Regions from separate parts of the Homo sapiens genome. Here region 2 is linked to region 1. Evidence: fine-mapped expression QTL. A gene starts in region 1. The other region holds a variant in brackets. All regions are shown on one strand. Distances are between the middles of the regions. Region 1 holds the start of WDR19 (WD repeat domain 19). Region 2 has its middle 6.0 kb from the start of TMEM156.

Evidence for each region.
Region 2: its variant is fine-mapped to the expression of WDR19 in whole blood (INTERVAL, PIP 0.95).

The regions. Positions count from the first base shown.
Region 1 is chr4:39,180,853-39,183,766 of GRCh38, forward strand. It overlaps WDR19 (WD repeat domain 19), which reads left to right and starts at 1,677. Exons shown (of 37, transcript NM_025132.4): 1 at 1,677-1,711. The coding sequence starts at 1,706. RefSeq lists enhancers at 1,346-1,525, 1,377-1,671, 1,796-1,945, 2,646-2,715.
Region 2 is chr4:39,036,999-39,039,912 of GRCh38, forward strand. No RefSeq gene overlaps it. Among named protein-coding and RNA genes, the nearest start is that of TMEM156, 6.0 kb to the left of the region's middle. RefSeq lists an enhancer at 1-458. The variant C/CT (reference allele first, on the strand shown) is at 1,642.

The sequences.
Region 1 (2,914 bases):
GTAGCTGGGACTACAGGCGCCCGCCAATACTTCTTAATCTCCCACACTTAAGTGGAACAGGATGGTTTATGGAGGCTGAAGTTGAGTATTTCCCTTCTCCCAGGTAGTTTAGGCTCTGATAAAACCCCAGCAGACTAGGCTTTGGTAAAAATACTTTCTCCTGAGGGCAGGTCTTGTTAAGAACTGATTGCTCTGGCTATTTTTAAATGGTTACCCTTTCAGCAGAGGAATCTTTCAGTAAAAATTTAAGTAATTAACCTAACTGTCAGAGGCGTTTGAACCAGAGCGATTCCATTTTGAGTGAGGGCTAGGAAAATGAGGCTGAGACTTGCTGGGCTGAATTCTCAGAATTTGGGCATTCCTCGCCTCTAGATGTTTACGATTAAGGGAATAAATTAATAATGTTTACTAAAACAGACCCAGATATCGGGATATCTGGAGAACAAAGGCATTCCTAATTTTGCTTTAAAGATAATAATATCAATTCCTGCAAAATAATTAAGAAAATTAATCTTTGATCACAAACCCTTGTAGCAGAGCACATCTCCCCATATATACAAGCATTGTACCTAGGGTGGATGCGTCCCTTCTCTTGCTTTCAGGAATGTCCTACTCTGTCTATGGAGTAGCTGTCCTTTCACCACTTTACGTGTTTTAATAAACTTGCTTTTCTCAGCACTGAGAACTCGCCCTGAATTCTTTCTTGCGCGCGATCCAAGAACCCTCTCTTGGGGTCTGGATCCGGACCCCTGTCGTAACGTAACTGAAAACCCCAGTGCAAAGGCATAGCACCCTACTTAAGAATTTGCAAACATTCATTATTAGTTATTTCAAATCATTGATTAACTTTCTCTAAGCCAATCAGATTCCTACCTGATGTCGAAAAGAAAAGCAAAAGGTAGACTGTTTCAACACTTTCAGACGCTTGGGTAAAAGATGCACTTTCATGCTATAAATAATGCAGCACAAATACTGTACAACAGGGCTTTATACTTGGGGAAAAGCTGCCAGATCCAAACTCTAAAGGAAAACTATTGGAGCTCATTTTTCCTGCCCACGTTAGCTAGCACATTTTGTTGACATTGAAAAAAAAAAAAGATTTTGGTGAAACTGAAAAAAAAAAAGCACCAACAACCCTACCTTGAAATAAACTATTGTACCTCTTATGCCTCCTCCCTTCTACCCCAGAAACCTGGAAGAAAAAAAGATATACCCGAGCTCGTCCAACCCCTCTTTGCGTGGACTGTATAGGAGTATTTAGCCCATCCTGCCTCCTTTAATCTAACATTCTGCGTCTTCTTTCCTTCAGCTTCTCGGCGCCCCCTTTGGCCAGCACTGACATCTTAGTCATCGCGGTCCAAAATTTACGCACGCGCCTTTGAGGGCTCACAGAGCCCGTCTCTCCCGGACGAATCTCATCCAATCAGAGCCAGCCAGGAAGCCGAGGCTCAGCAAGGCCTCGCGACGCCCAACTTCCCAGGGTTAGCGTCTCTGATGTCATGTGATTCCACCCTCCGCCTCTCACCCACCCTCGCAGAGGGCGGTGCGCTTGGCCCGGCCCCTCGAGGCACCGCCTTTCAATTAGCACTCGCTGATTGGTCGCTGCTCGCGCGGTCTCCTGGGTGACGGGAACGCGGTAGCCTGCTTGGTGGAGACCGGGTGCGCCTGCGTACTTCATAGTTCGCGTAGCGGCTCGAGCGTGGAGATGAAGGTAAATAACTTACAAATTCCCGGGGTGGGGCGGGAAAACGCGACTACTGGCCCTTGGTCGCTTTTAAAAGAGGATATCTGTCCCTCTCCCTTCTGAGTTCGTTGGAAATGAGGAAGAGAGAGAGAGAGAGAGGTGGCCAGAGAGAGCGGGGGCGAAGCTGAAGGGACGAGAGAAAGGAAAGAAAATAGGAGGAGAGGAGAGGGCGGAGAGAGAGGCCTCTCGTTTTGGGGACTGCAGACGCCGTAGAAGCGGTGCAGAAAGTGGGAACCCCTCCCTGGCCGAAATGAGCGGACTGGATCTAAAGATACCCCAGCTTCGCACGCGGAAAGAACTGGTCGAGTTAACGCGTTTGGAGGGTCGCTGTGAAGTTGACTGGGTCCGATGTCACGAGCTACCTCATTTCTTGGGGCTAAGCCTCTGGCAAGCCGCGCAGCTGCCCAGCGCCTTAAAAAGAATGAAAAGCCTCCTAAAGAATAACTTCAAAATGTATTACCTGTGACCAGTCCAATCACCTGCTAGCGAGTGTACATTATTGACGGGAAATCTGCACCCGAAAACTCAGGTCTCACGCTCATGTGCCTCATCCTCTGCACGCACGGTTTCTAGGCTTGGGCTTCTTGTTCACCCCACTTTCTGATTTATCAGAGCAGTCCCCCCTTGCTCTGCTCTGGCAAAGAAATGGAAGGCTTTTTTTTTTTTTTTTTTTTACTGAGTCTCGCTCTGTTACCCAGGCTGGAGTGCAGTGGCGCAATCTCTGCTCCCTGCAACCTCCACCTCCTGGGTTCAAGCGATTCTCCTGCCTCAGCCCCCCGAGTAGCTGGGACTACAGGCGCGTGCCACCACACCCAGCTAATTTTTTGTATTTTTAGTAGAGATGGGGTTTCACCGTGTTAGCCAGGATGCTGTCACTCTCCTGACCTCATGATCCCCCGACCTCGGGCTCCCAAAGTGCTGAGATTACAGGCGTGAGCCACCGCGCCCGGCTGGAAGGCTCAATTTTAAAATTATTTTAGATGTCCTCATGCTTCTTCGTGGCTATTAGTGTGGAAATTGGAATTGACGGACCAGTAATCATAACTCCCATTTTTATTTCTAAAGCTCTTTACAATTTATGAAATATTAGAAGTGAAGAGTTATTATTCATGATTTACAGTTGAGAATTTTTTGCTGGAGGCAATTTAAACGACTTACTTAAAGCCCTAC
Region 2 (2,914 bases), 140 kb before region 1:
AGGTTGAGTCAGCCCCTCAGAGAACCGGAAAAGGTGCTCAGCACTGCTCAGACCCCAGGCTGCGGGTCACTGAGCTGCCTTATCTTTGTTCACTCAGTGCATTTCTTTTTTATCATTATTATTTTGTTTTTTTTGAGATGGAGTTTCGCTCTTGTTGCAGTGAGCGTGATCTCAGCTCCCTGCAACCTCCGCCTTCCAGGTTCAGGTGATTCTCCTGCCTCAGCCTCCGGAGTAGCTGGGATTACAGGCGTGCGCCACCACGCCTGGCTAATTTTTGTATTTTTAGTAGAGACGGGGTTTCATCATGTGGGCCAGGCTGGTCTTAAACTCCTGACCTCAGGTGATCCACCTGCCTCGGCCTCCCAAAGTGCTGGGATTACAGGCATGAGCCACTGCGCCTGGCCCACTCAGTGCATTTCTCCTGTAAGTGGGGAAATATGGTTTGACCTGCCACCACCGGGTTTAGAATCCTCAGTGGGCAGAGTTTGCCCCAGGCCCTCACACTCAGGCCTCCTGAGACGTGGCTGGTCTTCTCATGCGCAGCCCACACAGGGCTGCTTGGCCCATTGTGTCCTGACCCCAATCACCTGTGGCTGGAAAGGCAGTTTGTTTTCACTAACAAAACCCCCTGCACTGAGACTGCAGCTTAGACAGGAAAGAACCTGTTGGAGCCTCTTTCCTCAAAAGAACTATGAGTCAGGCTTGTCTGCCCAGCTGTATACTCACAGAGTTGCGGGGACAAGGAGGGAAAACCACCCTGGAATGGATTCTGGAACCACTGTGGTATATTTCAGCCTCTGGAAACAAAGTCTGGCAACCGAACCACAGAATTCATTATATTGTTAATTACATGCATAAACAGGCAGGAAAGCATAACCAAAACATTCTTCATGATGGTAAATATAACAACCATTGAATATGTACGAGATAAAGTAAAATAAATTGCTCAGAGTCTGAAAGTATCAGGCCTAATAGATCCAGTCTCAGATAAAAAGAACTGGCTGCAACAAGAGAGCCCGTCCGACTCTAAGTAATACCATTTCTTGGTTTTCTTGGGGATAGAGCAGAGGAGAATGAAATGCTTGGTTTTGTTTTTTTTTGTCTGTTTGTTTTTTTCTTCCTTCTTTGTATTGCTTAGCCCGTTGACTCTGAATGTCTTCAAATGTGTACAGAGAGTGCCACCCTCTATTCACTCACTGTTTGTGTATTTCAGGTCAGCTGCTTGTTACTTAGCTAGAATCTTTCCCCAAGAATTCTGTGCTAAGTATAGTCACTGAATATAGAATGCAGGTGTGAATACAGGAATATGTGCTTTTACAAAGATGAACAAGATGGAGCTAGAAGAAGCTTAATAGTTGATAAGAACTTTGCAGTTTACATATCTGATTCATCTTTATTCATTCTCTCCCTCATAACAAGTAGCAGTGTTTTCTATGCTGTAGCCCTCTTTATAATATTTGGTAAATATTTTGTGATTTCTGTACACAAACTGTCAGCACAGTAACAAACCTAAATGCTTAAACTTGTATAGCGGTTATGAACTTATTCTCTCACAACATGAAAACAGAAGTCAGATTGAGTAGTTCCATTCTGTTAGTGAATCAGGAAGTAATATATCAAATACAAAGATTCATCCTGGAA[C/CT]TTTTTTTTTTTTTTTAGACGGAGTCTCCCTGTGTCGCCCAGGCTGGAGTGCAGTGGCACGATCTCGGCTCACTGCAAGCTCCTCCTCCTGGGTTCACACCATTCTCCTCCCTCCACACCATTCTCCTGCCTCAGCCTCCCGAGCAGCTGGGACTACAGGCACCCGCCACCATGCCTGGCTAATTTTTTTTTTTTGTATTTTTAGTACAGAAGGGGTTTCACTGTGTTAGTCAGGATGGTCTCGATCTCCTGACCTCATGATCCACCCACCTTGGCCTCCCAAAGTGCTGGGATTACAGGCATGAGCCACCGCGCCCGGCCCATCCTGGAACATTTTTAACTCATGAGACATCAACATCAATTAGTAGTCTTGCAACTGTTATTTTCAAAATGTAAAATAATTATATAGAGATGCTGAAATAATTTTTTAATACATGAAAGTATGAAATAATTTTTTCAATGCATGGAAATAAATACAAGAACTTTGTGTTCATAACCTTGTCCTTGTAAGTTTCTGAAATCCTAAGTTAATGACCTTCTAAAGTTTAATGAAACTCGTAGTAAAACACTATAGAGGAAAGGTCCTGTCTGTATATGTTATAACACTCAGTGGAAAAATGGCCATACTCAAGTAAGTTTTTGTTTGTAAAGGCTTCATATGCAGGGGGAGGGTGGATTTCATTCATTCATTCATTCATTCACTCATTCATTCAGAAATATTTCTGAGTGCCTGCCATCAAAGACCTCTCAGCTAGTCAAGGAGATAGACAACTAAGCCAATATTCACAGCCCATTGAGTAACTGCTACAATGAAAGGGGCATCCAGTGTACTTTGGGGGTACGAAGAAGGAACTCGTTCAGCTTGGAAAGTTCAGGATAAAGATCACCAGAGGAGGTGACCCTGGAGCTGAGTCTTGAGGGCTAGCAGATATTGGAAAGCAGGGTATTTCAGAAGGAGGAAACTTATTTAAAAGCACAGCTGTGGGATAAATGATATGTTCTCGATGCTGCAAATAGTTCAGAATGGACATAGGGCTAAATAGGTAGATAGGGGTTAGATTACAAAGGACCTTACAACAATGCTAAGGTGTTTGAACTTTACTTTTAAAGCAATAGTCACTAAAGCATGTTAAACACGGTCCTGAGGGATGAACAGAATTAAATTTGTATTTGAGAAAGGTTAAGGAGACTGACAGGAAGTACGGAAAGTCTTTTTGCAAAGACCTTTTTATTCAGTCAGTAACTATGGCCTGGTTACAGGAGACCTACTTGT